Linked DNA regions of Homo sapiens. The protein of the gene in region 3 interacts with the protein of the main gene of each other region in a pairwise test. Each region holds a gene or a part of one and is shown on either strand. Other genes may lie near its edges. The genes, in order: MARCHF8, BNIP3L, CYB5B and SLC10A6.

Region 1 (7,786 bases), on a different chromosome or scaffold from region 3:
TTTTTCAAAAGATGTTAGGTACAAATGAATACAGTATGATCTATCAATACTCATGTGTTTTTAGAGCAAATACGAAATTGTGTTTACTGACCATCATCCTGATGCTGCATGGTAAAATCCTCCTTTTGACCTCAGTAGCAGGACAACAGGGCCAAAACTAGGACTGTTTATAAATATATAAAATACCACTTTTATTTTCTGTGTAGCTTACTTTAAATATAAGTTGATCATTGAATTACCTTCTTACTTATCACCTTTCAGGAATCCTGGGATACAGATCATTTCTTTCAGGATCCCTTTATCAAGGAGGACAGGGCAGAAAATTGAAAAATGTATTTTTTGGACAATCTTGCAATTTGGGTTCCAGACATGTAGAAGAATTCCAGATAATTCATGTAAAGACTCCACCTTCAAGGAGGGGGAGCACAACTCCCCATTCTTTAAAGTGGGCTATGCCTAGTGACTTCCTTCCAAAGAATGAAGTACAAAAGGGGAGAAAAAGAGTAACTTTATAGTGGAGAGACCTGATAGTCACTATATCAGCCAGGTGGTCAAGAAAATCAGTCATAAATCATGTTGATAGTATACTCGATCTGTTGTGATGAACTGGTACATTGTATCTGTGGACTTCCATCCCAAAACCTATAACCCTAGTCTAGTCATGAGAAAAATATCAGACAATTCCCATAGAAGGACATTCCACAAAATACCTGATCAGTATTCTTCAAAACTGTCAAGGTAATCTAAAACAAGGGAAGTCTGAGAAACTGTCATAGCCAAGAGGAGCCTAAGGAGATACAACAACAAAATGTAATATGCTACATCCTAGAGATGAGATCCTGGAACACAAAAAGGACATTAGTTAAAAAGTAGGGAAATCTGAATAAAGCATGGACTTTAAAACTATAATGTATTCATATTAGTTCACTAACTATGATGAATGCAGCACACTATTTTAAGATGTTAATAATATGAGAAACTGGAAGCTTGGTTCAAGATGGCTAACTAGATGCAGCTAGTACATGCCTCTTCCATGGAAAGCTCCAAAACGGCGAGTAGATATTCACCCTTCAAATAGGTCATCTAAAACAGAACACTGGAATTCAACTGAAAAGCAACAGGAATCACTGATCACAAAGGAGAAGGAAGCAAGGCACGTGCTCAGCCAGGATTGCTGAGAGATGAAAGAAGCTTCTAGATGCTGGGAAAGGGTAGATGAGAGACTCCCAGGGCTCCACATTCCCACCATGGACTTTTGCAACGCTAGCTGTGGGAGACCCCCTTGACCCTCGCAGGTCTCCAGCCTAATAGAGTGAGTTGCCTGGAGATTGACAGAGGCATTGCTCAAACTCACATGGGAGTACACAGGCTTCCGAGCCCTGAGCAGCTGCTGCTACCAGCCAACAAGCCAGGCTGAAGAGAGGAGGCCAGGCACTTTTACACAACCACTGTGCTTCTTGTACAGTCTGCAGAATAGTGAGCCAAATAAAATCTCTTATTTATAAATTACCCAGCCTTGGGCATTCCTTTATAGCACAAGAGGGGACTTCAACACCCCACTGACAGCACTAGACAGACCACTGAGACAGAAAAAAAAAGAAAAAAAAAACCCCACTGGATTTAAATTGGACTGTAGAACAAATAGACCTAACAGATGTTTATATAACAAGCTACCCAACAATCACAGAATATACATTCTTCTTATTAGCATGTGGAACATTTTCCAAGACAGACCTTATCTTAAGGAATGAAGCAAGTCTCAATAAATTTTTAAAAAACTGAAATCATTTCAAGTTGTCTTCTCAGACTACAGTGGAAAAAACCTAAAGTCAATTCCAAGAAGGACTCTCAAATCTATACAAATACATGGAAATTAACCTGCTCTTGAATGATTTTTGGGTCAGTGATGAAATTAAGATGGAAGTTTAAAAATTTTTTAAACAAAAGTAGAGACACAACATACCAAAACCTCTGGAATACAGCAAAAGCTTATAGTGTTGACTGTAAATGGATTCAAGAAAGAAAAGTTTATAGCGTTAAATGCCTAAATCGAAAAAAATAGAAAGACCACAAGTTAACCTGACATAGTACCTCAAGGAACTAGAAAAACAAGAACAAACCAAACCCAGAAGAAAAGAAATGATGAAGAGCAGAACTAAATGAAATCCAGATCATAAAAACCCAAAAGATAAAGAAACAAAAAGTTGCTTCACTGAAAAGATAAACAAAATTGACAGCCTACTAGCTACATTAACCAAGAAGAAAGAAAATTCAAATAAGCACAATCAGAAATGAAAAAGACACTACAAATGATACCACAGAAATACAAAAGATCATCAGAGTCTACCATGAACATCTCTACACTAACGAACTAGAAAACCTAGATGAAACAGGTAAATTCCTAAAGACACACAACCTCTCAAGAATGAACTAAGAAAGAGAAAGCCTGAAGAGACCAATAACCAGTAAGACTTAACCAGTAATAAAAATAAAAAAAAATCTCCCAACAACAAAAAACCCCAGAAGCAGATGAATTCACAGCCAAATTCTACCAGACATAGAAGAATAGGTACCAATCCTATTGACAACACTGTTCCCCCAAATTGAAGAAAATCCTCTCTAACTGAAGCCAGTATCACCCTAACACCAAATCCAAGCAAGGACACACAAAAACAGAAACAGAATCAATCAGTACCCCTAATGAACACAGATGCAAAAACGCTCAAGAAAATACTAGCAAACCAAATCCAACAGCACATCAAAAAACATGGTACACCACAATCAAGTGGGTTATATTCCAGGGATACAAGTAGGGTTTAACATACAAAAATCAATAAATGTGATCTGCCACATAAACAGGATTAAAAACAAAAACCATATTATCTCGATAGATACAGAAAAAGCATTTGATAAAATTCAGCATTCTTTCATGATAAAAACCACTCAACAACTTGGTGTAGTAGGAACATACCTCAAAATAATAAAACCCATATACAAGAATCCCACAGCCAACATCATACTGAATGGGGAAAGGTTGAAAGCATTCCCCTTAAGAAATGGAAGAAGACAAGGATCCCCACTCTTACCACTCCTACTCAACACAGTACTAAAAGTCCTATCGGGCCAGAGCAGTAATGCAATAGAAAGAAAGAAAAGACATCTAAATTGTAAAAGAGGAAGTTAAACTATCTCTGTTTGCTGATATAATTTTATACCTGGAAAACCCTAAGACTCCTCCAAAACACTCGTAAATTTGATAAATTAATTCAGTAGAGTTTCAGGATACAAAATCGACCTACAAAATCAGTAGTATTTCTTTTGTTTAGTTGGGGTTTGTTTCTTTGTTTGTTTTTGAAACGGTCTCACTCTGTTACCCAGGCTGGAGCACAGTGGCGCAGTCATAGCTTAGCGCAGCCTCGACCTCCTGGGCTCAAGTGATCCTCCCACCTCAGCATCCCAAGTCGCTGGGACTTACAGGCACGTGCCACCACACCCAGCTAATTTTTGTATTTTTTGTTGTGAGGAGGAATCAGTAGCATTTCTATACAACAATGATATAATCAAGCTGAGAACCAAATCAAGAACCAAACCAAGAAGTCAATCCCATTTACAATAGCTACAAAAAAATAATAAAATACTCAGAAATACACTCAACCAAGGATGTGAAAGATCTCTACAAGAAAAACTACAAAACGCTGACGAAAGAAATCACATATGACACAAACATGATCATGGGTTAGAAGAATCAGTATCATTAAAATGACCATACTACTCAAAGAAATCTGCAGATGCAATTCCTATAAAAATACTAACATTGTTTTTCACAATATTAGAAAAAACAATCCTAAAATACCCAAGGAACCAGAAAAGAGCCTGAATGGCCAAAGCAATGGTAAGCAAAAAGAACAATACTTGAGGCATCAAATTACTTGACTTCAAATTGTACTATAAGGCTATAACAACCAAAACTATTATAAAAAGAGACACACAGGTCAATGAAACAGCTTACAGAACCCAAATTAAAGACACATGCCTACAGGCAAATGATCTTCTTCAAAGTCAACAAAAACATACACTAGTGGAAGAACACCCTATTCTATACATGATACTTGGGAGAATTGGGTAACCATATACAGTAGAATGACACTGGACCCATATCTCTCACCATATACAAAAATCAACTTAAGATGGATTAAAGACCTGAAAGTATAAAGACCTGAAAGATCTGAAACTATAAAGATTCTAGAAGAAAACCTAGGAAAAACTCTTCTGGACATTGGCCTAAGGCAAAGAATTCATGCCTAGGACCTCAAAAGGAAAGCTACAAAAATGAAAATAGACAAATGGGACTTAATTAAAATAAAAAGCTTCTACACAGCAAATAAATAATCAACAGAGAAAACAGACAATCTACAGAACAGGAGAAAATATCTGCAGACTATGCATCTTACAAAAAGCTAATTTGTAGACTCTACAAAGAACTCAACAAGAAAAAAATAACCTTTTTAAAAAATGGGCAAAGGGCATGAACACATATTTTGCAAAAGATGACATACAAATGGCCAAGAAACATTTAAAAAGTTAGAAATGCAAATAAAAGCGATGAAATACCATTTCACACCAGTCAGAATGGCTATTACTCAGGTGTCAAAAAAATCAATAACAGATGTTGGCAAGGATGCAGATAAAAGGGAATGCTCACAGACTGTTGTTGGGAGTGTAAACTAGTACAGCTGCTATGGAAAACAATATGGAGACTTCTCAAAGAACTAATAGAAATACCATTTGATCCAGTGATCCCACTACTGGGGATCTACGCAAAGGGAAAGAAATCATTATATCAAAAAGATACCTGTACTCAAATATTTATTGCAGGACTACTCACAATAGCAAAGACATAAAATCAATCTAAGTGCCCATCAACGGATGATTGGATAAAGTAATCCACATCATGGAATACTACTCAGCTATAAAAAAAGAATGAATTCATGTTTTTTTGTAGCAACATGGATAGAACTGGAGGTAACTATCTTAAGTGAAATAACTCAGAAAGAGCAAGTCAAATATCACATATTCTCACTTACAGGTGGGAGCTGAAAAATATGTACACAGGGGCATAGAGAGTGGAATAATAACATTGGAGACTCAGAAAGGTGGGAGGATGGGAGTGGGTGAGGGATGAGAAATTACCTCATGGGTGCTTATGTGCACTATTCAGGTGGTGTAACAACACTGCACTTGTACTAAATCTATAAATAATAACAATATGAGAAACTGGGTGTCAGGTATATGAAAATACTCCATCCTAGCTTAACAATTTTTCTGTAAATCTAAAACTAGTCTGAAATAAACTTTTACTTAAAAATGAAACTGGGCCAGGTGCAGTGGCTCACACTTGCAGTCCCAGCAATTTGGGAGGCCAAGATGGGAGGATTGCTTAAGCCCAGGAGTTTGAGACCAGCCTGGGCAATAGCAAGACCCCGACTCTACAAAATGAAAGAAAAACTTATCCAGGCATGGTCTATAGTGCCAGCTACTTGGGAGGTTGAGGCAGGAGGATCATTTGAGCCCAGGAGTTCGTGGCTGCGGTATGCTGTGATCACGCCACTGTATGCTAGCCTGGGCAACAGAGCAAGATCTGTACTCAAAAATAAGTAAAAAATAATAACAAAAATGAAAATAAAACTGACCGAAGTGAGGGAGAAAAGCAAACTCAGAATAGTCACACATGCCAACAATGACAGAAAAGAGGACTAAAACTGTCATTATAGCTGTTATTTCATATACTAAAAAAGTTGCATAGAGACATGGAAGATATAAAAAAGATCCAAAACAAATGTCTAGTGATAAAACATGTCTGAGATGAAAAACACACTAGACGGAATTACTGGCAGATTAGATATTGAAAAAGAAAATATTAATGAAATTATAAACAAAGTAATTGGAATATCCAAAATAAAATGCAGAAAGAAAAAATAACCTTAAAAAATTAAAAGTGCAGCAGTGGACAACTTTAAGCCAGTCAATGTGTATACTGGAGTCCCCAAAGAAAGAATGGGGGGACAGAAAAAGTATCTGAAGAATAGCCAAAAAGCTCCAAATTCTATGAAAATTGTAAACCCACTGATCCACAAGCACAACTTCAGAATACAAGAAACAAATAAAAAATATTTTTTAAATAAAGCTGAAAGAAGTCATTGTCAGCCAACTCACATTATAAGAAATGCTAAAGTCCTTTAGACAAAAGAAAAATGATAGATGGAAATACACCAGAAATGGTAATTATCTGAGTAAACAGATCTTTATTATTATTTAAAAGAAAAGTATTTAAAGAGAAAGTATTTTTTTAAATATATTCTAGGGTTTAAAATTTATTAAAAGACAATAATGAAAAGGCCAGAAGGAAAGAAATGAAAGTATACTATTGTAAGGTTCTCATACTGTATTTGAAATAAAAGATCATCTCCACAGTGACATGACCCATATCACTGAAACTGAATTCATATTCACTCATTCATTCATTCATCAACTGTATTGAGTACTGTATAAAAGTCATTAACCCTCTGTAGAAGTTATGGGCTTCAGCGAGGGTGTGTTAACAGATTAGACTAAGCAAACAGGTGGATTATTTGAGTCTAGGTAAAATGCAAGGGTTCACTCTTCTTATGGGACTCAGTAGGAATAATATCTCCCAAGCACAGGAGGATCAGAAATCATAGCAAAAGATTTTGGGTTGAACCTGTGCCAGGAAAAACTGCATAAATAAAAATGGGCTCCACTGGACAAAAATTTACCTTTCAAATCAAACCTGATACCACAATTGAGACCCTAGAAACACAACCACTATTTTCATCCTGTGCCATTGCTGCTGAAGCTCTCACGGGGCCCTGCAAGTTCCTGGTTCAACTGCTCTTCCACTACTGCCACCTCATCTGGGCTCCACGACACCCTGAACTGTCAGGCTGCCACTGGGTGTTCAAACCATCCCCACACTAAGGTAAGACAGAATGGTTTCTCTTTCTTCCCAATACCAATAAAAATCCCCATTCTACAAATAATTGATTAATGCTATTTATTTAGACCTTAAAAATCCCATCAAATAGATAAATTCAATAAGGCTTTATTAAATAACCACCTACAGTAAACCTGCAGTGAGGGTGTATATCAAAAAGAATCTCCCTTCCTGGCCTAACTGTTGGACATTTTCCTTTTTCTATTCCAAACAAGTTTGTATAGCTTCCCCATGTACACACTATTATGGACTAAATGTTTATGTTTCCCACAAAACTTTTATGCCAGAACTCTAATCCATAATGTAATGGTATTTGGAGGTGGGGCCTTGGGGAGACAATTAGGTCCTAGGGGTGGAACCCTCTCCATGGGATCAGTCCTTCTATATGAACAGCCACATGACAGCTTGCTTCCTTCCTCCCTCTATGCCATGTGAGGACACAGCAAGAAGGCAGCTGTTTATAAGTCAGGAAGTAAGACCTCACCAGAATCCAACCATGCTGGCACCCTGATCTCAGATTTCCAGCCTCCAGAACTGTGAGAAATAAATGCTTGTTATTTAAACCACCCAGGCTATGGCATTTTGTTACAGCAGCTAGGGCAGACTAAGACACATATTAAGAAATTCCAGCCATCTGGTGTCCAAATTTCACACTACGATGAATAGGAAACTAGCAGCATCATGTTCTGAGAATCCAAAGAACTTAGTCACAGTGATTAACCAAAAATAATCAGGTAGATTTAACCAATGAAGATAAGTCATTTATAACCATTT
Region 2 (8,411 bases), on a different chromosome or scaffold from region 3:
CCAGCCTGGGTGACAAAGTGAAACTCGAACTCTACAAGAAATAAAATAATTAGCTGGATGTGGGGGTGCACACCTGCAGTCCTAGCTACTTGGGAGGCTGAGGCAGGAGGATCACTTGAGCCCAGGAGGTCTAAGCTGCCATGAGCTATGACTGTACCACTGCACTCCAGTTTGGGTGACAAAGCAAGACCCTGTCTCAACAAAACAAAAAACAAAAAAGAACAAGAAAATTTGAAAAGAAAAAAAAGGCTATACTTCTCAACAACAAGAATTATACTACGATTTACACTACTACTTTGATTTTCCTTATTCGGCCCTATTGAATCTTATTCAAACATTCTTAAGGAAGTTGATAGTTTTCTTAACAATAAAACAAACTGGACAACATCCTTTTGACTTGGAAGGAGTTTGGGTATTTGCCCTGTAATTTTTAATGAAAGTGAACAGTCTCTCCACAGCGGTAAAGTTAAAAAAAAATCACAAAAATACTTCACTATTCAAATACTTCAGTAATTTGCTATTGAAACCCTGCTTTGACCCCTGAACCAAAGATAAAATCCCAAACGCAAGATAATCTGTACATTTCTTCTCCTGTTTTTCAGTTGTGCAACTTTACCCAACAAAGTCCTTCGACTTATCAGCAATTTGGATAGTACTAGATGCCTGAATAAGTTGTTTTGCCCATTGCCCAAAAATCACTTCAAGGAATTCAATGAGGCTTCTTGTTTTGTTCAGTACAGTGTTGTGTAATGAGCTAAAAAAACGAACAGAGTGAGAGGCAAGAAGGGAGTAATTAAATATGGCAATATCTAAAAGCTTTTCAGAAAGCTCACCCTATCCCACACAAAATACTTTCTATCTAGCAGATGTCCCAAAGCAACATTTTGATGTCCCATGCAGGCTGAGTGTACTTCCACCTCTGTAAGAGCTGATGTCAGCCAAGCAGGAACCGACTGGCCAAAGACATCAAACTCCTCATAGGTCTGTCAGACACCAAGATAAACAATGACATATGGCTCAGCCCCCGCCCTCGCCCCTTTTTTTTTTTGAGACAGAGTCTTGCTCTGTCACCCAGGCTGGAGTGCAGTGGCGTGATCTCGGCTCACTGCAACCTCTGCCTCCCGGATTCAAGCGATTCTCCTGCCTCAGCCGCCTGAATAGCTGGGATTACAGGCGCCCAACACCAAGCCAGGCTAATTTTTGTATTTTCAGTAGAGAGGGGGTTGTTCTCTCACCATGTTGGCCAGGCTGGTCTCGAACTCCTGACCTCAAGTGATCCACTCGCTTTGGCCTCCCAAAGTGCTAGGATGACAGGTGTGAGCCATCGTGCCCTGCCTGGCTCAGCCCTTTTTGTTGTTGTTGTTAAAGGGTCAAAGGAAGATGAAAATCCCTTTGCTTTCAGTGAAATCACGTACACCTACCAAGTATCTTCACTCATAAGAAAACTGTACAATTAAGAAACAATACTAAAAAGAAACAGAAAGGTTGGCCACCTTTGTCAATTAGGTAGAATAACACACTGACAAAATAAGACACACACACCAGCAGGAGGTTCTGCACCACTGAAAAGAAGCCGGTGCGATGGCTCAAGCCTGTAATCCCAGCACTTTGGGAGGCCCAGGCGGGCGGATGACGTGAGGTCAGGAGTTTGAGACCAGCCTGGCCAACATGGTGAGAGACCAACAACCCCCTCTCTACTGAAAATACAAAAATTAGCCTAGCTTGGTGTCGGGCGCCTGTAATCCCAGCTACATGGCGAAACTTCGTCTCTACTAAAAATACAAAAATTAGCTGGGCGGGTGGCAGGCACCTGTAGTCCCAGCTACTCGGGAGGCTGAGGCAGAAGAATCGCTTGAACCTGGGAGGCGGAGGTTGTAGACAGAGCGAGACTCTACCTCAAAAAAAAAAAAAAAAAAAAAAAAATGTCCTCAAAAGAGCAGTAGACAGGCTGAACATGAGAACCTCTGCTTTGCTCCCAGCCGGTTGTGAACTTGGACAAGGCCATTTACTCTAGACCTGTTTCTCTACAGGCAAACAACAGGAGGCAGTTAGCTAGCTCTGAAGTTTCTTCCCATTCTAAAATCTAAGACAGTATGCTAAACATGGGCAAATAACTTAAAATTGCATAGGAATATGTGATACAAGTAACGTTTAAAGACTCATACATTCATCCTAATTTACTGTGGGAAATAATATAACCATCTTACATTCTGGAATATATGACACTTAAAGGTTTTGGGAATTAACCCATCAAAACCTGGAGCAGCAGCATCCATCTTAAAATCTCCAAACTCCATCGCTACCTGGTGAGGGCTGAAACTCTCTTCCCTAAAATAATCTTCAGGCCACACTGGAAGCACCTCCCTCTTACGAAAGATACTGCATGACCTTTAAGCATCCAAGTGGTTTTGAAAAGACTTCATCTGGCCATATGCTCACTGCTCCCATTACCTCTTTCCCAAGAGTTGAATTAAAGAAAGGTTAGGCAAGAACCCTTCCAAGAAGGCTCCCGGTTCTCACGACTAGGAACAATCTGAGGACAAGATGTCTGGGCAGCGGAATGTTATGAAAAGACCCTGGCCTGGGTTGTCTATCAGCCTCGTCCGTTAACTTTCAACTGCCCGAGTGCGTTTTTAATTCCGTTTCTTTAAATGCATGGCCCCAGACTCCCTGACGTGTGCAATCTTGGGTGGTTCAGGAGGCTGCTCTCAGCTTTACTGGGCGCACAACCCATCGCTTTAAAAAAAAAAAAATCACTTGGGCAACTTCGAGAAATCTAATAAAAAAATAAAAAAGGAAAAAGGAGAAGCAAGGCACAGCCTCTCACCCCACACGTGACTGAAGCCAACCCTAGACGAGCAAATGAATTTTCCTGACAAACGTGTGGCAACAAAGGAATGCTCGCTGGGGGGCTCCCGCGCCCGCCAGACGCTGCCCGCCCGCGAGCCCCGCACACCTGATCCCCGACACGTCCCGCGGCAGCCGCCCGCCCCGCCCCGCTCCCGCGCGTCCATCCCCCGGCGTCCCCGCCGCACGTCCCCATCCCGGCCCACGTCCCCTCCGCGGCCCGCTCCGCCCACCCGGCCTCCCCGCCCCCCAGGCCCGCCCCCGCCCCGCCCCGCCCGGCTCCGCTGCTGGGGACCACCCCCCGCACCAGGGGGATCCGCGCTACCCGCGCCGCTCCCGGACCGCGAGCCCAAACGGCCCCGGGCCCAAGACCCCAGGAGGCAACAGAGAGGCCCGGAGCAAGGCAGGCGCCCCTCCTCTTGACAGGGGACGGGAGCTGTCAGTCACCTGGACATCCCATGCCTGAGCCAATGAGCTGCCTTCTCCTCCCGCCTCCCGCGCCGCGCCGGTGGCGGCGGCCGGGGCTGCTCCTCCTCCCCCATCCCCTTCACAGAGCCTCGGCCCCGCACTCACTGTTGAGGCCGGCCGGCGGGGGCAGAGACTGCTCATTTTCCTCGCAGTTGTTGTTGTTGTTGTGCAGGGGCGGCGGCGGCTCGACTAGGTGGGACGACATTGTCGGACAGCTGGCAGGACTGCGGCAGCAGCAGGACCGTCTCCGGCACTCAGGCAGCAACACAACAAGCCGAGTCCGCCGCCCCCTTTTCTGCGCCTGCGCCGTCCCTCCCCTGCCCCTGACGTCAGGGCCCGCCCAGGCCACGTGATGACAACACAACAAGCGACCGGACGGGGCAGGGGCGCTCCCCTGCGGGCCCCGGACGTGGAGACGCTCGAGTCAGGCTGACGCGCGCGCCGGGAACGAACTCTTGCGTGTGACTTGGGATGACCGGATGGGATGAGTGATGCCAGTGGCAGTGGGAGAGAGGATGAGGAGAAACGGAATGAGGAAGTGCGCTCCTGTGTTCGCGCCCGTGCCTCCTCTCACACAGGCTCCACAGTGCTTCACCCAGCCCTGCGCACGCATCTGTTTTCTACCTCTTAGGACTCACTTCTGCAATAGGTGTCTTGGGGACACAAAGGAATCCCCAAACCCAGGTGCCTCCACGTGTAAACTCCAAATAAAGCTGCTGAAACATCAACACTCCATACGGGAAACAAGGGAAGGCCGCCCCCAAATTTAATTGTTACAGAATTTTTAAAATGTCGATTACAAACACACCATCATTCTGAAAAAAAGAGAAAGAAGAAAGGGGAAGAAAGAAAAAAGAAAAATTCAGGAAAACAGAGAGAAGAAAGTACTCACCCAAATCCCATCGACTAATCGATTTCTGGGACATGACGTGGGAAGCCGTTTATCCTGTACGTGGATGACATTAAACTATGTTCCTGAGCACACCTCCTACTTCACATCTCCATGTCTTCGTCCAGTCTCCTTGGTCTGATTTATGAGTGACATATGTTTCTCGCAGTCTCTAACTTGTCTTTTAATTTGTTTTTTTCACTCTGTAGAAGCTTAAGGTTTTCATGTAATCAGATTTATCATTCTTACATGGCTTGGGGAGACAGTCACACCAAGATTACTAATCTATAATTCCCTTATAACTTTTTCTAATTTTCTTATAGGCTTAACTTTACATTTAGAGCTCTAATCCATCTGAAATTTATTTTCCATATGCTGTAAATTATTTAACTTCAATTCTTCCCAATTTTGTAGCCCATTGACCTAATAATATTAATTTTAAGCCATCCTTTCTACACTGATTTGAAATTGCACCTTTGTCACTCTCTGAATGACCACAAAAATGTGAGTCTGTTTCAGGGCTATCTGCAATACCTCTGTTAGATAACTATTAAAGTTTCTCTTCCTTTGTCTTTTTCAGATGTTAATGGCTAGTTACTCTTCAGATGAACTTAAAAATGGACTTGTCCAAGATTGACCTTGTGTTGGTAATTATTGAAGCTATGTAATACATTAAAGTATTCCTCTAATTTTTTAATATATTTGAAAAAGTCCATGCTAAAAGGTTTTTTTTAAGGATTGATTTGTCAAATCCCTTTGCAAATTCTTTTAAGATTTTGGTCAGAAATGAACTCTATTAATAGATTGAGTGCTGTTTCCGGTCATACCCGGAAGCAGGAGTTCAAGCCGCAGCTGGTAGGGATTGGCGGCTGCTGGCCATCTGAGTTTTATTAAAACTGCTCGCCGCGAAGCCAGTCTTCAGCCAGAATGTCCAGCAGAAACAACAACAAGCTGCCCAGCAACCTGACTGCAGTTACAGAATCTGATGAAGCGAGACCCACCACCCTCCATCTAGGAGTTTCTACAGCAGTATAATCACTACACATCCAATGTGGAGATTTTCAAATTGCAACCATATAAACCCGGTAAAGAACTAGCAGAGCTGGTGGTGTTTATGGCACAGAACGTCCTAAATATGTGCATCTGAATAATAGGAGAGAAAGAGAGAAACTTCAGAAGAGCCTTTGCTTTGTTATAGATTAGTTACTGCTACCCAGGGTATCTAAGTAATTTTCCTCAAGTGGTGAAAGATCTTCTGTCCTGTAATCATACTGTATTGGATCCAGATCTTCGAATGACATTTTGCAAAGCTTTGATCTTGCTGAGAAATAAGAATCTCATCAATCCATCAAGCCTGCTAGAACTCTTCTTTGAACTTCTCTGTTGCCATGATAAGCTTCTGCAAAAGACTTCATACACATATATCGTGACTGATATCAAGAATATAAATGCAAAACACAAGAATAAAGTGGATGTAGTATTGTAAAATTTCATGTATACCATGTTGAGAGATAGCAATGCAACTGCAGCCAAGATGTCTTTAGATGTTATGATTGAACTCTACAGAAGGAACATCTGGAATGATACCAAAACTGTCAATGTTATCACAACTGCATGTTTCTCTTAGGTCACCAAGATATTAGTTGCTGCTTTGACATTCTTTCTTGGAAAAGATGAAGATGAAAAACAGGCCAGTGACTCCGAATCTGAGGATGACGGACCAACAGCAAGAGACCTGCTAGCACAGTATGCTACAGGGAACAAAGTTCCCAAAACAAGAAAAAGTTGGAAAAGGCAATGAAAGTGCTCAAGAAACAAAAGAAGAAGAAAAAACCAGAGGTGTTTAACTTTTTAGCCGTTCACTTGATTCATGATCCCCAAGATTTTGCAGAAAAACTACTAAAGCAGCTTGAGTGCTGTAAGGAGAGGTTGGAAGTGAAGATGATGCTCATGAACCTCATCTCAGATTGGTGGGAATTCATAAGCTCTTCCTCTTCAATTTCTATCACTTTTTGCGAAGGTTTCTGCAGCCCCACCAAAGAGAAGTAACAAAGAACCTTCTGTTTGCTGCACAAGCATCTCATCACCTAGTACACCCAGCGATTATTCAATCATTGCTTATGACTGTGGCCAACAATTTTGTTAACGACAAGAACTCTGGAGAAGCCATGACAATAGGAATCAATGCTGTAAAAGAGACAACAGCTCAGTGTCCTCTGGCCATGACTGAAAAGCTTCTCCAAGACCTGGCTCAGTATAAAACACACAAGGATAATAATGTAATGATGTCTGCTAGAACTTTGATTCGGCTCTTCCGAACACTGAATCCTCAGATGCTGCAGAAGAAATTCTGGGGTAAGCCTACAGAAGCCTCCATAGAAGCAAGAGTACAAGAATATGGAGAATTAGATGCTAAAGGTTACATTCCAGGAGCAGAAGTTCTGGAAGTTGAGAAAGAGGAGAGTGCTGAAAATGATGAAGATGGATGGGAAAGTACCAGTCTCAGTGAGGAGGAGGATGCCGATGGCGAATGGGTTGATGTGCAACACTCTTCCAATGAAGAACAGCAAGAAATTTCCAAGAAGCTGAACACCATGCCCATGGAGGAGCAGAAAGCCAAAACTGCAGCCGTCAGCACCAGTCGAGTTTTAAGTTAGGAAGACTTCCAGAAAATCCGCATGGCGCAAATGAGAAAAGAACTTGACGCTGTCCCCGGGAAATCCCAGAAGAGGAAATATATTGAAATCGACAGTGATGAAGAGCCGAGGGGTGAATTACTTTCTCTTCCGGACATTGAACGCCTTCATAAAAAGCCAAAATCTGACAAAGAGACAAGACTAGCAACTGCAATGGCTGGAAAGACAGACCGAAAAGAATTTGTGAGGAAGAAAACCAAAGTGAATCCATTTTCCAGTTCAAAAAGTAAAGAGAAGAAAAAACAGAAGAACTTTATGATGATGTGGTATAGCCAGAATGTCTGGTCAGAAAATAAGCGTTCCTTCTGAGAAAAACAGTTGGCGCTGCGAGATGCCTTTTGAAAAGAGAAAAAGAATGAAGTAACTTCCCAGAAAGTTTTCCATTCCAAGAAGAATGCTAAGTTTGTGTCATTACTCTGAAAATTGGTAAATCAAGCATGTTTGTTTACATTAAAAAGTCCAGAAGCACTATATTATGAAAACTGCTGAAAATGTGGCAGCAATTTGGTGTTTTTATTTTGGGGACAGCTAATGATGGGAAATGTTAATGTAAATAGTGGTGGTAGTGTAATATCATTTATCATTCATGCAAAAAAAAGTATTGAGTGCCTATTAATTGTCACTGTAGATACAAAATGACTGAGTTGTAACTACCCCTTCACTCAAGGCATTGACAGCTTAGTTGTGGGGGTGGACACAGACGTGTATTTACAGTGCAGTGTAAATAGTTCTCTAGTAGAGGTAGGTCCACATTTCTATGCAGACACTGAGGCCTTATGGACTAACTCTGTGGGGATGGGGGTTATATATTCCTGTAAAACAAAGCAAAACAGGACAATTGTAACAAGAGTAAGAGGTTCTTTCTTGCATATAATAGGCTTACCTGCTGAAAACAGGCCCCTGCTGTACAGATTTTGGGTACATAATTTAGCTCTTTTAGTCAATCCAAAAGATTTAAATGACCCCCGCTTTTTTTTTTTAATGCCATGTAAAGGCTTTTTGGTTAAGACCTCACTTTTAAAATTGCCTTAAGTGTAAATAGTACCTTTGGAATGTATTTAGTTCATCATTTGAGATGCCTTCATACTGGTTTCCTCAACCTTCCTTCACCCTGTATTATTTTCAGCCCACCGTTTGTCTCAATAAAAGGTTTCTAATGCCAAATGATAAAAAAGAAATTGAGGGGATTATTGACATATTTATAGAATTGTTTTCCCAGTCAGGACTACGAGATCCCACTTTGTTCTATTTTCCTTTTAGGTGCTCCTTTCAAAAGGTTTTAAACTTTCAAAAAAAAGTTTTTTATTAATCATGTGCTATTTTATTTTTATTTTTTTGAGACAAGGTCTCATGCTATCACCCAGGCTGGAGTGCAGTGGTACAATCACAGCTCACTGCAGCCTCAGCCTCCCGGGCTCAAGTGATCATCCCACCTCAGCTTTCCCAGTAGGTGGAACTACAGGTGCCTGCAATCATGTCCAGCTATTTTTTTGTGTTTTTTGTAGAGACAG
Region 3 (8,735 bases):
GGAGGCCCAGGCAGGAGGATCCCTTGAGCCCAGGAGTTCCAGACCACACTGGGCAATAGTGGGACCCCAATTCTTTTTTTTTTTTTTTTTGAGACAGAGTCTGACTGTCGCCCAGGCTGGAGTGCAACGGCACCATCTTGGCTCACTGCAACCTCCACCTCCCGGGTTCAAGCGATTCTCCTGCCTCAGCCTCCTGAGTAGCTGGGATTACGGGTGTGTGCCACCACGCCCAGCTAATTTTTTTGTATTTTTAGTAGAGACGAGGTTTCACCATTTTGGTCAGGCTGGTCTGGAACTCCTTACCTCATGATCTGCCCACCTTCGCCTCGCAAAGTGCTGGGATTACAGGTATGAGCCCACACCCAGCCAGTGGGACCCCAATTCTACAAAAAATTTTAAAAATTAGCCAGGCGTCGTGGTGCACACCTTTTCCCAGCTATTCGGGAGGTTGAAATAGAAGGATCACTTGACCCCAGGAGACTGAGGCTGCAGTGAGCTGCACTCCAGCCTGGGTGAAAGTAAGACCTTGTCTCAAAAAACAAAACAAAAAAAACAAAACTGCAGGTAAAGAGCTGCAGCTCAAGCTCCAAGAGAAACCTTGGCACATTAGTGATGTCTCTGGCTATATCAGCATGTGGTTGAAACAGGTTAGTTACTTCTGGAATCTTCACAGAGGAAAAAAAAAAAGAAAGAAACAGGTTAGCAACTATTACTTGAGACTGAATTAATGCTCTCTGTAAGGGCTGAGTGTTCCCTCCAAGCTCACCATCTATTCTGAATCAATCAAGAAAAAAAATGGAGGGAAATAAAACCACAAATGAAAAACATGATTTTTTTTTTCTTTTTTTGAGATGGAGTCTCACTCTGTCACCCAGGCTGGAGTGCAGCAGCACCATCTCACCTCACTGCAGCCTCCACCTCCCAGGTTTAAGCGATTCTCCTACCTTAGCCTCCCAAGTAGCTGAGATCACAGGTGCCACCAAGCCTGGCTTATTTTTGTATTTTTAGTAGAGACGAGGTTTCGCCGTGTTGGCCAGACTGGTCTCGAACTCCTGAACTCAGGTGATCTGCCCGCCTGTGCCTCCAAAAGTGCTGGGATTGCAGGCATGAGTCACTGCGCCCAGCCAAAAAACTTGATTTTCTACCCATTATGAACCATGCTTTAGCATGAAACTTACTATGAAGCAAATACCAGAAGTCATAGCTAAGGCTAGAATTTTGAAGTAATGCTATGCAGACAAGAGAAATCAAGGGATCTGTCAAATCTGCTACTAATTGATTGTATGACCAGGATCTTTCTGAACCTGTTACTTGTACCTCTGTTAAAAAAAAAAAATCACTACTATCCAAGTCACCCTCCACTAGCTTTTTTTTTTTTTTTTTTGGAGTCTCGCTCTGTCGCCCAGGCTGGAGTGCAGTGGTGCAATCATGGCTCACTGCAATCTCCGCCTCCCAGGTTCAAGTGATTCTCCTGCCTCAGCCTCCTGAGTAGCTGGGATTACAGGCGCCCACCACCAGGCCCAGCTAATTTTTGTATTTTTAGTAGAGTCGGGGTTTCACCATGTTGGTCAGGCTGGTCTGGAACTCTTGATCTCGTGATCCGCCCGCCTCAGCCTCCCAAAGTGCTGGGATTACAGGCGTGAGCCACCACACCTGGCCGGGAAAGTACTTTTTTTTTTTTTTTTGAGATGGAATCTCGCTGGGTCCCCCAGGCTGGACTGCAGTGGCGCAATCTAGGCTCACTGCAAGTGCCACCTCCCGGGTTCACGCCATTCTCCTGCCTCAGCCTCACGAGCAGCTGGGACTACAGGCGCCCACCATCACGCCTGGCTAATTTTTTGTATTTTTAGTAGAGATGGGGTTTCGCCGTGTTAGCCAGGACGGTCTCGATCTCCTGACGTCGTGATCCGCCCGTCTCGGCCTCTCAAAGTGCTGGGATTACAGGCGTGAGCCACCGCGCCCGACCGGAAAGCACTTTTAAAAGCATAAAATGCCATACACCATACAAATGCAAGAAGTTAGTAAATTCTGAGTTTGTTAAATTATTGTTCACTATTAAGATTTATTAAAAATAATGTTCTTTGGGGGAAACTTTTAAATTTTAAAAGTTTTTAGAATTAAAAGTCAGGATGCAGAGATTTCTCTTTTAGGCCCCAAATTAATCGAAAAAATATTTCACTAGTATATTTGCTTCAGAGAAATAGAAGTGAACTTTCACAAGTCATTAATCTATTGCTCAAAATAAAATGATCACACACAAACCGAAAATCAAAGCTTCAAACATACACACACCGAAAATCAAAGCTTCAAACCAATCTTTAGCGGCTGCATATCACTAGTTGCCTGGGGTTGGGAGAGAATGACTGCAAAGGGAAAGGAAGCTTTTTAGAATGATGGAAATGGTTTATGTCTTAACATGGATGAATACATTTTTCAAAACTCATCAAAATGTACATTTTAGATAGGCACAATTTACGTATGTACATTACACCTCAATAAAGTTTTAAATATTTAGAAGTCTATCCTGTTTCCTTAAAAAAAAAATTAGTTGCACCATGGTCTCAAAAATAATTTTTAAAATGAGATGTAATGCAACAGACTTGAAGATTAAATAAAACAGTCTTGAATATTTAAGAAAAATGACAAAACATGAGTCAAAAACAAAAAAAAAGGGTTGATTTATGAGTTTCTGGCCTCAAGGTCAACTCAGATTAGGGGGAAAAAAAAACAGTGGAGGCATAATCAAGATGGGGAAGCGTGTGGAGAGAAATCTCAGCTTCTACTCTAGAAGACGAAAACCAAAACCGGTATTACTTCAGAAGGCACACTGGAAAAGCACAGATGTGGGTGCACTTCAGACCTAGGTTCAACGGATCTAAGCTGCTAACTCTATGGCCCTGAGAGTCCTCAACCTGTGAGCCTCAGTTTCCCTTTCTGTAAAATAAAGATAATGATGGCTTAGAGTTTAGCTGAGCACACAGCAAATGCTCGACACATAAGTAATACATGATATTACATAAGGCACCAGAACTCGGAGCTGACTGGAAATGCATGCAAACTAAAGCCCTCCCCCAATCCCACCCCAGTTTCCCTCTGAGGGTCGTGATCCCTTTCTTACGCCTTATCGCCCCCAGCCAAGCCTCCCTTCCTTCCCACATACACTCCACACAGCCTTTTCACCCCTCGCCCCAGCAGCTTCAGAGGCCTCCCACCTCCCAGGCCCCACCTCGTTGAGGAAGCGGGTGACATCGTAGACTCGCCCATGGATCACAAGCCACAGTTCCTTCAAGGAGTTGCGCTTTGCCACCTCCTCCAACCGGTAATAGGTGACTGAGGTCTCGACTTCCTGCCCTTTCCCATCGCTGCCGCTAGCTTCCGCAGTCGCCATTGAACCGGACATACTGCCTCTCCACCGCTAACTGAGATTCCGCGACTACTTTCCTTGAGAGCCCGCGCTCAGCCTTCCTCGGCTTCCGTAACCAGGGCCCATAAGGCCTTGAGACGGTTCCTAGCAACAGCCAATCACACTTCCGAATAGTTCCTGGTTCGTTTTCTTTTCACCAATGAAGGGAGTGGCTCAGTTCGAAATCCCGCCCACTCCTCGCCCGATCCTCCAGATGAAAGTCTGGTTCGAGGTCCAACTAACCAATTAGGGTCGTTCAGCCCCCTCCAACCTCGCCAATCAGATACCGCGATTTTTGGACTGGCGCCCAAAAGAGGCGTGCTGACAGGTGTCACTTCAGGAGAGGTACCACTTCTCTCAGCCTGTGGGCCTTTAGGGTCTCCAGTGTTCTGCTTCCCTTCCCATCGCTGTGGCTTTCTCCTGAGTCTCAGAAAGTTCCTATCCCCTACACTACCGGCGCAGCCTGTATCCCAACCCTGATTTTACATCTTTGCTGCCTCCAGGTCGTGATCTGGCCAATCCCGTCTCTCCTCAATTTCCCCATCAGTAAAATGGGCTTGATAAAGCACTCTCTTACAGAGGGGTTTGCCTTTTTTTTTTTTTTTTTTTTTTTTGAGACAAGTTCTCGCTCTGTCTCCTAGGCCAGAGTGCAGTGGCACGATCTCGGCTTACTGCAAACTCCGCCTCCCAGGTTCAAGCGATTCTCCTACCTCAGCCTCTCGACTAGCTGGAACTACAGGCATGCGCCACCACGCCCGGCTAATTTTTGTATTTTTAGTAGAGAGTAGGTTTCACCATGTTGGCCAGGCTGGTCTCGAACTCCTGACCTCAGGTGATCCGCCTGCGTAGGCCTCCCAAAGTGCTGGGATTACAGGCGTGAGCCACCGCGCCTGGCCCGGTTTGCCTATTTTAATGAGAGTGCCTGTAAAGCGCTTGGCGCATAGTAATCGCTAAACATGGCAGTCGATTAGAAAGGCAATTGCTGTCCCGGACAGCAATTGGGGGTAGAATGTGGAGTATCCTATGTTTCTACCATCATTCAGAATCCGATTTTCAAACGAATTCTGTGATGATCAGGATCAATCGGCACTATTTTAGTCTCTACGTGATCTAAAATAGAATTGAACTCAACTGCTCTCCGCTAGAGGTCCCAGCACTTTGGAATTCCAAGTTTGGTTAAGGTACAGTGTTGTGCGCCACTTTTTAACTGCCATTACAACTGACAGATTGCTCTTCCTATGATGTCGTCGTTTTCATCCTGTCACTCTCGCAGTCTACCATTCAGGGCTCTCCACAATCCATTCGCAACCTCTTTCACTAACGTATAATATTTTCCACCATTCCCTTTATAAGCCTGTTGCACCCGCCCCGACTCTGAAACCTGCTGGTTTAAAACCACATCCGTGGTCATCCCAGGTCCACCAAGTTAATTTTAGATCACTTAGAGACTAAAATAGTGCAGATTGATCCTGATCATCACAGAATTCATTTGAAAATCGGATTCTGAATGGTGGTAGAAACATGGGATACTCCACATTCTACCCTCAATTGCTGTCCCAAGGACTCCTCTTCCTTTCAATGCCTACCGGCTTTTCAAGTTCCTCTTCAGTTTCTTCTATTTTCAAACTTCTCCTACCGTTTTGAGCTCCAGTGCTTCCATCCCTTTGTAGTACCTAAGAAAGCATATTACTATTTTGGGAAGCCTGCTACGTCTGTAAATTTTAACTTTACGTATTTTACCTCCCTAGTTAGACTGACACTATGAGAGCAATCTCACAAGATTCTTAGGATCCTCCACAAACTCTAGATTCAAATATTTACATTTATTCCAGACATTTACTATTTACTGTTACAAGTCTTATGATAGGCATTGGGAGTAGAGAGATAACATAAGAAACAAAATCTCTGAAAGAAATAAAAACATTTACAGGCTGAATGTGGTGGCTCAAGCCCCGTAATTCCAGCACTTTGGGAGGCCGAGGTGGACAGATCACTTGAGCCCAGGAGTTCAAGACCAGGCTGGGCAACATAGTGAGGCTCTTGTCTCTTCAAAAAATACAAAAATTATCTACGCATGGTGGCACACAACTGTAATCCCAGATATTTGAGAGGCTGAGATCTGGGGATGGCTTGAGCCTGGGAAGTCGAGGCTGCAGTGATGTATGATCGCACCACTGTGCTCCAGCCTGGATGACAGAGCGAAACCCTGTTTCAAAAAAATAAAAATAAATAAATAAAAATAAAAAATAAAAAAATTACAAATTCTAGCACTTAAGTGATATATACCTGTAACATTATATTTGAAAATGTTTTTAGAATTTCAAATAAGTAAGTTACAAGAATAATACAATGAATGACCATATACTTTTAGCTTAGGTTTACCAACTGTTAATATTTTTCAATATTTGATTTTTTCCATATTATTTTGATCATTGTTGTTAATAATGCTGAACTATTTCAGATATCACCACCCTTTACAGCCAAATAATTCTACATGTATCTTCTAAAAATAAGAACATATTGTCACGTAACTGCAGTATGAATTTCAAATTCAGAGAATTTAACATTCACACAAAATTATTATCTAACATACTCTCCATATTATTTTCCATTATTGCATTCATGTCCTTTGTGAAATTTTAGTGTGCCTGTATGACCCAGGATCCAGTTCAGGATCATGTATTGCACTTAGCTAAGTCTCTTGAGTCCCCTTTAATCTAGAACATTTCCTTAACTTTGCTTTTGCTTTCATGACATTGACATTTTTAAATAGTATAGCCTCAAATTGAATTTTACACTGAAAAATTATTGTGACCTAAATGTTTTGGTTATAAATTTATATTTACAATTGATAGCACATGTTAGCCAGAAAGTCTGGCTTGGAATACCTGTCCCTGCCACTCACAAACTTGGTGACCTTGGGCAGGTTTCTTAGCCTCTTTTTTTCCATGTGGATACCCACTTGTTCCTGCACCATTTGATGAAAACACAATTCCCCCTTGAATTGTTTTCCTGTATCTGTCGAAAATTGATTGATCATATAAGTGTGGTTCTCCTTCTGAAATTTCTACTCTGTTCCGATGACTTATTTGTTTATCCTTGTGCCAATTCCACAGTCTTGATTATTGTAAGGCACTAAATCAGGTAATATAAGTCTTATAGCTTTGCTCTTAACTTTTGAAAATTATTTTTGCTATTCTAGATCCTTTGTATTTCCACATACATTTTTTTTTTTCACTCTCATCACCCAGACTGGATGGAGTGCAATGGCACAATCTCAGCTCACTGCAACCTACACCTCCCGGGTTCAGAGTAGCTGGGATTACAGGCCCCCACCACCACACTTGGCTAATTTTCATATTTTTAGTAGAGAGGGGGTTTCACCATGTTGGCCAGGCTGGTCTCAAACTCCGGACCTCAGGTGATCCGCCCACCTCGGCCTCCCAAAGTGCTGGGATTACAGGCATGAGCCACCATGCCCGGCCCCACACACAATTTAAAATCAGCTTGTTGACCAAGTGATCAAATTAAAACATCTCCATAATAAATCATGTTGACAGCATGTACCCCCGGTGTGATGTGATGAAAAGGGCATGTTGCCACTGTGGCATTCTTCCACAAAATCCATAACCATAGTCCAAGCATGGGAAAAACATCAGGTAAACCCAAACTGAGGGACATTCTACATAATGCCTGACCAGTACTCCTCAAAACTGACAAGCTCATAAAAAAAAAAAAAAAAAAAGGAAAGATTGAGAAATTGTCACAGACTCAAGTAAACTAAGGAGACATGACAATTAAACGCAGTATAGTATCCTGGACTGGATCCTAGAACAGAAAAAGGGCACTGGGGAAGAATTAGTGAAATCCAAATAAAACAGTAAGGTGCCAGTGTTGATTTCTTACTTTTGACAAACATATTATGGTAATGTAAAATGCTATCTTTATGGAAAATTGAGTGAGTATACAGAAACTCATTGTATTATTTTTGCAACTTTTCTGTAAATCTAAAATTATTACAAAAAAAGTTATTATTTTTTGCTGGGCACTGTGGCTCATTCCTGTAATCCCAGCACTTTGGAGGCTGAGGCACAAGGATTGCTTGAGCTCAGGAGTTCAAGACCAACCTCGACAACATAGCAAGACCTCATCTCTTTTTTTTTGAGACGAGTCTCACTCTGTCACCCAGGCTGGAGTGCAGTGGCATGATCTAGGCTCAGTACAACCTCCGCCTCCCGGGTTCAAGCAATTCTCCTGACTCAGCCTCCTGAGTAGCTGGGATTACAGGTGCCCACGACCATGCCCAGCTAATTTCTTTGTATTTTTAGTAGAGACAGGGTTTCACCATGTTGGCCAGGCTGGTCTTGGACTCCTGACCTCAGGAGATCCGCCTACCTCGGCCTTCCAAAATGCTGAGATTACAAGCGTGAGCCACTGTGCCTGGCCTGCAAGACCTCATCTCTTTAAAAAAATGTAAAAATTAGCTGGGCATGGTGGTGGGCACCTATAGTCTCAGCTGCCTGGGAGGCTGAGGCAGGAGGATTGCTTGAACCCAGGAGTTGGAGGCTACAGTGAGCTATGATTGTGCCACTGCACTGCAGCCCGGGTGGCAGAGTGAGACCCTGTTTCTAGAAGAAAAAAAAAAAAATCAGCTTCTTAATTTTACAAAAGTGCTTATAGATGAATTTACAGAAAAAAGACACCTTAAAAACCTTACATTTCATGAACCATTTACTTCAGTTTAATTTGTAGTTTTCAATGTAGACATCTTTAGCATCTTTTATTAAATTTATTTCTAAATGTTTCGTTTTTTAATGCCCCTATAAATGAAATTATTTCATTTTCCAATTGTTTGCTGCCAGTCTAGATAAATATAATTGATTTTGTACATTGACTTACTATCTTATACCTTGCCAAATTCACTTATAGTTCCTGTAATTATTTTATGGATTTCTTAGAATTATCTATGTAATAAATATGTCGTCTGCTAATAGAGACAGCTTTGCTTCCACCTTTCTTCCCAATCTGTATGCCTCTTTTTTCCTTGCCTTGTTGCACTGGCTAGGACTTTCAGTACAGTGTTGAATAGAAATGGTGAAGTTAGCATCCCTGTCTTGTTCCTAATCTTAGGAGGAAAGCATTCAGTCTTTCACAATTTAATATAATTTTTCAGTAGATGTCTTTTATCAGCTTGAGGATCTTGAGGATCTAGTTTCCTGAGTTTGTTTTATTTTTATTTTGTTTTTATTAAGAAAGGGTGTTGAATCCTGTTGAATATTTTTTCTTTTCTTTTCTTTTCTTTTTTTTTTTTTTTTTTTTTGGTTGTTGTTGT
Region 4 (7,786 bases), on a different chromosome or scaffold from region 3:
TTGAGAATGATTTTGGATTGTTTTGGCCATCTGTAATTCACATAGACACCAAAGGCCACAGGAATGGTCAGGCACACAAGGGTAATTCCTAAAGAGAAGAAAAATCCATGAGAGGGTTTTCCCTCTCACCCTGACTGCACAGTACTTCCCAACAACTTCTATTTCAATTAGGTAACAGCTTTAAACTGACATTTTCCCATGCCACTTCCCAAGTCTGGATAAATGCCTACAATATTGGCTCCAAAGTTATATAAGCTGCTCATAACATTTTGCGTCTTGTGAGTGCCTTTCAGAACATATTATCAAAGCAGAATATATTAAATAACTTACTGATCAGAAAAAAAGTTGCACATAAAATCATGGTTTCTAAATTAAGGTTTCCCTCAAATTTTACAGATTCAGTGGGCTCCCGCTATTGTGAGGAAGTGGGTTCATTCATGGTTTTGAACTATGGGCCATGGGTTGTAAGCCTTCAAGGTGTTTACCTGAGACACCAGATTGACACTGAGAGTCTTAAGAATCATAGTGTTGGCCAGGCACGGTGGCTTACACCTGTAATCCTAGCACTTTGGGAGGCCAAGGTGGGTGGACTGCCTGAGCTCAGGAGTTTGAGACCAGCCTGGGCAACACGGTGAAACCCTGTCTCTCCTAAAATACCAAAAAAATTAGCCGGGTGTGGTGGCCTGCACCTGTAGTACCAGCTACTCGGAAGGCTGAGGCAGGAGAAGGCAGAAGTTGCAGTGAGCCGAGATTGCACGACTGCACTCCAGCCTGAGTGACAGAGCAAAACTCTGTCTCAAAAAAAAAAAACAAAAAAACATAGTGCCTATCACTTTTTCAAAAACTGACCACACTAGAAAAGGCAGATCATTTCACCACATTTCTCTTCTAAGCTTGCTAAACCCACAGAGATCTTTAGGAAAATGGCAGACTTTCATGAGAAATAATATTCAGAAGAGGAGATAATGAAAGAGATATGGGTGAGACTGTGACATGTAGATGAGTTTTCATAATCAGTAAGAATTATTTACATTCAACCTCCAAGAAAAAGTCAAGGTTCGCAGGCAATGTGAAAGGTGAAGTCACAGGAAGGTCTAATTAGAGCCACTAGATCCAGTTAAACCTTGGAGTATAAAGAGTCCAATTGCTTTATAGTCTAATTACATAAGGGTTTGATTCCTGCTTTTTCAAAGTAAATTATCTGGCTTTCTTTTTTTTTCAAAAATGCACTCTTATAGGGATGAAAGTTTGCACTTTGTAGTCAGATTCCCGGGTTAGAACTCCAGTTCCGTACTTACCAGCTGCATAATCTTGATCAAGTTACTAAACCTCTTGAAGCCTGAAGACCTAGGAGACTGAACTGGTAACAGAATCTATACTGTAGGGTTCTTTAAGGGATTAAATTAAGTACTACCAAAAAAATCCCTGCATAAAGAGTTATATAATTAAGAACAGCTATTATTAGTATCATCACCATTACTGTTAGTCCTCCATTTCCCAGGCCCATACAGACCTATGTTCTGATAAGGAATGGTGAGATTCTGCTGAAGACTCCAGGACCAGGTGTAGAGATAAATGCAGAGTGGCATCATTCCCAGGGCGGCCACGGTGGAACAGGTTGTCATACTGATGCTGAAAGTAAAATTAATACAATGCTTAGGAGGGAGCATTGGACATGAAGAATTTAGTCTTTACCAAAAGCAACTCCTAGGACACAATTTCCTAGAGATTACATGGACTAAGCTCCTTGGAGCTCATTTCTCTCCCGTTGTTTAACAAACGATGGCTATATTTCTGGTCTACAAAGAGATTTCCAGTAGTTCTTGTCATCCATCAATTACCTCATATTTATTTTACTATCTACTTGCCTTAAAATTCTGCTAGGCACTATAGAATTATTTTCTTATCTAGTTCTTTTTTATTGAAGTATAATCCACAAGCCATAAAATTCATCATTTTAAATTATACAATTCAGCAGTTTTTAGTATAGTCACAACATTATGCAATAATAGCACCATTTCCAGGATAGTTTCATCACCCCAGAAAGAAACCCCATCCCCATTAGCAGTCACTCCCCAATCCCTCCTTCCCCTAGCCCTTAGCAAGCACAAATCTACTTTCCGTCTTTATAGGATTACCTGTTCTGGACATTTCATATCAACAGAATCATACATGCAGCCTTTTTTCTGTGTCTAGCTTCTTTCCCTTAGCATAACATTTTCGACGTTTGATAATAGTTTGGCTGTTTGTCCTCTCCAACTCTCATGTTGAAATTTGATTCCCAACGTTGGAGGCGGGGGCAAGTGGGAAATATTTCGGTCACAGGGGCAGATCCCTCATGAACAGGCTGGTGCCATTCTCGTGGGATTCACTGAGTTCTCACTCAGTTCTTATGAGCTCTAGTTGTTAAAAAGAGTCTGACACCTCCCTCCCCTCTCTTACCATGTGATGCCTGCTCCTCTTCCCCTTCCACCATGGGTGGGGTCTTCATGAGGCCCTCACCAGATGCAGATGCTGGCACTTTGCTTCTTGTGTACAGCCTGCAGACCCTCGAGCCAAATAAACCTGTTTTATTTAGAAATTACCTACCCTCAGGTATTCCTTCATGGCAACTCACATGGGCTAAGACAAGGTTTATCCATGTTTTAACATATATCACAGCTTCATTCTTTTTATGTCCTTATTCTATTAATATAGTATATCACATTGATTTTTCTGTATATTGAATCAACCTTGCATTTTGAAATAAATCATATTTGGTCATGGTGTATAATCCTTTATGTTGCTAGATTCAGTGTGATAGTATTTTTATTGAAAATTTTTGCATGTATATTCATAAGAACTATTGATCTGCAGTTTTCTTTTCTTGTGATATCTAGTTCTGGTACCAAGGGGATTGGAAGTGTATTAGGCTGTTTGCATGGCCATAAAGAAATACCTGAGGCTGGGTAATTTATAAAGGAGATTCATAGTTCTGCAGGCTGTACAAGCATGGTTCCAGCATGTGCTCCTGGTAAGGACCTCAGGAAGTTCGCAATCATGGTAGAAGGCAAAGGGGAAGGGGGAGCAGGTATCTCACATGGCCAGAGAGGGAGCAAGGGAGAGTGAGAAAGGGGAGGTCCCAGACTTTTAAACAACCAGATCTCATGTGAACTAACTAAGCAAGAACTCACTTATCACCAAGGAGATGGCATTAACCATTCATGAGAGATCCACCCCATGATCCAATAGCCTCCCACCAGGCCCCACCTCCAATACTGGAATCACATTTCAACATGAGATGTGGAGAGGACAAACACCCAAACCACATCAGCAAGTTAGAATGCCACAAAGCTGACTGAACGCCTGCCCAGTATGAAGTGTTAATAAATATCTGTCAGGAAGAAGTCACGCAAACACCACATGCCATAAGCTCCCCATTGGATAGGGCAGTGACCCCCACAGTCGCTGACCTGCAGACAGAGCAAGTTGGTTAGGGCAAGGGAAGGTACAGAACCACAGAGAAAGGGAACTGATGTGAGATGCTAGACTGAATTAAGAATTCTGTTCCAATCCTGATATCGTGTGATCCTATGATTAGAAACTGTGATTGGGCCAAGCATGGTGGCTCATGCCTGTAATCCCAGCACTTTGGGAGGCCAAGGCGGGCAGATGACCTGAGGTCAGAAGTTCGAGACCAGCCTGGCCAACATGGTGAAACCCTGTCTCTACTAACAATACAAAAATTAGCTGGGTGTGGTGGCAGGTGCCTGTAATCCCAGCTACTTGGTAGGCTAAGGCAGGAGAATCACTTGGACCCAGGAGGCGGAGGTTGCAGTGAGCCACGATCATGCCACTGCACTCCAGCCTGGGCAACAAAGTGAAACTCCATCTCAAAAAAAAAGAAAGACAGAAAGACGAAAAGACACAAGAAAAGAAGAAAAGAAAGAAAAGGAGAAGAAAGAAAGAAAGAAAGAGAGAGAGAGAGAGAAAGAAAAGAAAAGAAAAGGAAGGGACTGAGATTTGAGATTGAAGTAGAGTGATGAGTTAGAGTACAAAGTAAGATTTCTAGGCTTCAAAATGATGGTGTGATATACAAAAAAGCTGAGTCACTTAGCATCAGTTAGAGGGGTTGTGTTAAGTAAGGTGATAGTGGGACATCCAGTCTTTGGTGAACAAACCTGGAAAGATTTCTAAAGACAATCAGTCTGTTTATCTGTGTCATTACTGGGGTTGTCTCTGGCCACCTTGGAAAGTGAAATGTGGGTTTGTGAGCCGGACGAACCAAACCAAAACCAACAGCCATGCTACATAGCTTTACCAGGAAAACAACTGAGACCATCAGAAGGAAGTTGTGGTCTTTGTTCAACAAATCCAGAATGATTTCTACTGGAAAACTGGTTTGTTTATCTCTGTTATTATTGAGGTTAATTGTTTCTAAGTCAAAAGGCTAACACATTTTAAGCGCAATGGTTCTTAAGAACTTTTAAGTACATAATGTCTGTGACAGAGGGGGAAGAGTACTTGGTTTGAAGTCCTCAAAAACTGTGTATCGTGATTACTGCTATGGTCTGAATGTGTCCTCCAAAATTCATAGGTTGGAAATCAAATCCCTAAGACAACAGTATTGAGAGGTGGAGCTTTCTGGGAGGTGTTTAGGTCACAATGAATCCACCTTCATGAATGAATTAATGCTATTTTAAGAGGACTCCACCAAGGAAGTTTGTTCCTTTTTGCCCTTCTCTCTTCCACCACGTGAGGAGCAAGAAGGACCTCACCAGACAATAGATGCCAGCACCTTCATCTTAGACTTCCCAGCCTCCAGAATGTAAGGGAATAATTTCTCTTCTCTATACATTAACCAGTCTCAGGTATCCTGTACAGCAGCACAAAATGGACTAAGACAATTACTATATTGTTATTACATTATATGAACTAAGTTACTGCTTCACACATTTGTAATTTGTTGCAGATTTTTTGGGGTTTTGTTTTGTTTTGTTTTTTGAAATGGAGTCCCACTCTGTCGCCCAGGCTGGAGTGCAGTGGCGCAATCTCGGCTCACTGCAACCTCCACCTCCTGGGTTCAAGTGATTCTCCTGCCTCAGCCTCCTGAGTAGCTGGGATTACAGATGCCCACCACCACACCCAGGTAATTTTTGTATTTTTAGTAGAGATGGGATTTCACCATGTTGGCCAGGCTGTCTCGAACTCCTAACCTCAGGTGATCCACCCGCCTCGGCCTCCTAAAGTGCATGAGCCACCACGCCCGGCCATAATATACTGTGTTTTTGTATTTTCCATATATATTTTTGGTCTAAATTTATTTAGGGAAAAGCACTTAGTTACATTAACTGATAGTTAATATTTTATATATTGTAAAGCCTCCTTTGCTCTAAACCAGGGAGAGGAAGAAGAGCCCATGGTGCATGTAGAGAGAGAGAGAGAGAGAGAGAGAGAAAGAAAGAAAGAAAGAAAGAAAGAAAGAAAGAAAGAAAGAAAGAAAGAAAGAAAGAAAAAGAAAGGAAGGAAGGAAGGAAGGAAGGAAGGAAGGAAGGAAGGAAGGAAGGAAGGAAGGCAGGCAGGCAGGCTGGGATTTGAGAAGCAAGTAAGCAAAACATCATGTTGTACACCATAAATATACATAATTTAACTTGTCAATTAAAAATAAAATTTAAAAAAGAAGTCAGTGGAGAGCTGGGAGGTTATATTTCATGAAAGCTAAGAAAAGAAAGCTCCCAAATGAAGGCTAAAAGCCAATAAAAATCAGGGAGGATGAGAACTGAAGAAATATTCAACCTTACCCCACTTTTTGGTGCCTTCCATCCCAAATCTATTCTTTCCATCTCAGTCTCACTCCCAAATCGCAAGTTAAGGCTGTATTTTGTACCTACCTGAGTGATAGAACCAGTGAAAGAATGCATTAGTAAAATTAGGGGAAAGAAAATAAATGGAAAGAAGATACCCATCAGACCAGTCAAATATTTTATCTTTCAATTTGCTGGAAAAAATTACACAATCTGTTTAAGCATGTACAAACTGTTTATAGACACTGTGCTCATTCTGTGCTCAAGGCACAAATGACTGACAGACTGAGAAGCAGACTGCCCTCCTGCTCTACAAAGGAGAGGGAGGAGGCCCTTCATACGTCAAGGTCTTCTGCATAGACAGAAGGTCCTTCAGCACTTTATTGGGTCTACAAGTCATCTGTCACTCTTCCTCCTAATATATATCACCATTGCTTCCATCCAATTACCCTGTCTATAAAATAATACGTCTATGACTACTTTAACATTTTCTGCCAGAAGAATGTTTATACTCTTGACAAAGCAGCATCTGTTTTACTTCAATGATACTAAAAAGATTCCCTCTGTGCTCTCACTCATTGCTGGTAAAAATGGTACACCACAGAGGGTGTCTGGCAATATCTAGGAAAATTAGCGATCCTGCTTCTAGGATTCTGAATCCATGGCCCTCTGGACATGGTTTTATTGACATTGGCTCATGAATTATACACATGCTGTACCCTACACAAGTACTTATGTACCTGTCCATCTGTGCCAGAGTGAGTGGCATGACAGCCAGGTCCTATTTTCCTCTCCATCTCTAGGAGACCTGGCATAGTCTCACGCTGCAGCATATTGGAAGAGCTCGTTAAATACTTACTGAATAAATGTATGAATCAAAGAATGAACCAATGTCAACACACTGGTGCTATGGAAATATTCTCTCTGTCTCCGTCATATGTCACGTATCTCCAGGTGAACATTGGTAAAAATCTTACTGAAATGACCCCTTTATACTTAGTTCAAATGGTAAACAGCCCCATAGCAATCCAGAAAAAGAGACTTTCTATAAAATTATGCTCTCCCAGCAGGGCATGGTGGCTCATGCCTGTAATCCCAGCACTTTGGGAGGCCAAGGCGTGCAGATTACCTGAGGTCAGGAGTTCGAGACCAGCTTGGCCAACATGGTGAAACCCCATCTCTAAAAAAAATACAAAAATTAGCCGGGCATGGTGGCACACGCCTGTAATCCCAGCTACTCGGGAGGCTGAGGCAGGAGAATTGCTTGAGCCTGGGAGATGGAGGTTGCAGTGAGCCGAGATCATGCCATTGCACTCCAGCCTGGGTGACAGTGTCTCAAAAAAAAAAAAAAAAAAAAAAAATTATGCTCTTCCCAGACAAAAGCAAGTAAAATTTTAAGAAGCAAATATTTAGCTGATTGGTGCTCCTTTCAGAAATCCAAACTTAGATAACTTGCAAGTATTTGTGTACATCCTTCTACTCTTTTATTTTTCTTTTAAGCAGTCCATTTATTTCATGATTGTTTGTTAAATCAATAGGATTTTTTTCTTTCATTATTTTTTCTTTTTAAAGGAATCAGACCAGGTGCAGTGCCTCATGCCTGTAATTCCAGCAATTTGGGAGGCTGAATTGGGAGGATTGCTTAAGACCAGGAGTTTAACAACAGCCTGAGCAACATAGAGAGACCCTGGTCTCTACAAAAAAAAAAAAAAAAAAAGTACAAAAATTAGCTGAATGTGGTGGTACACACCTGTAGTCCCAGCTACTCGGGAGGCTGAGGCAGGAGGATGGCTTGAGCTCAGGAGTTTGAGGCTGCAGTGAGCTATGCTCACACCACAACACTCCAGCTTTGGGGACAGAAGGAGGCCCTGTCTCTAAAAATAAAAAAAGGAACCTTATAATATACCTTACTCTGCAACTTGTTTGCTTTTTTTCCCACTTCATCTATCACAGACATCCTCTCAGACCAATACATTTAAACTTATTCTTTTAAAGAACTGCGA

The links.
Region 1: the proteins of CYB5B (region 3) and MARCHF8 interact in binary tests that used the Homo sapiens proteins (3 or more experiments, as listed by UniProt).
Region 2: the proteins of CYB5B (region 3) and BNIP3L interact in binary tests that used the Homo sapiens proteins (3 or more experiments, as listed by UniProt).
Region 4: the proteins of CYB5B (region 3) and SLC10A6 interact in binary tests that used the Homo sapiens proteins (3 or more experiments, as listed by UniProt).

Annotation. Positions count from the first base shown.
Region 1 is NC_000010.11:45,525,127-45,532,912, forward strand, and holds part of MARCHF8 (E3 ubiquitin-protein ligase MARCHF8), read right to left. Parts: intron 1-7,786. UniProt on the Homo sapiens protein: E3 ubiquitin-protein ligase that plays several important roles in innate immunity and adaptive immunity.
Region 2 is NC_000008.11:26,378,240-26,386,650, reverse strand, and holds the start of BNIP3L (BCL2/adenovirus E1B 19 kDa protein-interacting protein 3-like), read right to left. Parts: upstream 3,598-8,411; 5' UTR 3,521-3,597; coding exon 3,421-3,520; intron 1-3,420.
Region 3 is NC_000016.10:69,419,349-69,428,083, reverse strand, and holds the start of CYB5B (cytochrome b5 type B), read right to left. Parts: upstream 3,466-8,735; 5' UTR 3,401-3,465; coding exon 3,227-3,400; intron 1-3,226. UniProt on the Homo sapiens protein: Cytochrome b5 is a membrane-bound hemoprotein functioning as an electron carrier for several membrane-bound oxygenases.
Region 4 is NC_000004.12:86,831,793-86,839,578, forward strand, and holds part of SLC10A6 (sodium-dependent organic anion transporter), read right to left. Parts: intron 1,633-7,786; coding exon 1,514-1,632; intron 89-1,513; coding exon 1-88. UniProt on the Homo sapiens protein: Transports sulfoconjugated steroid hormones from the extracellular compartment into the cytosol in a sodium-dependent manner without hydrolysis.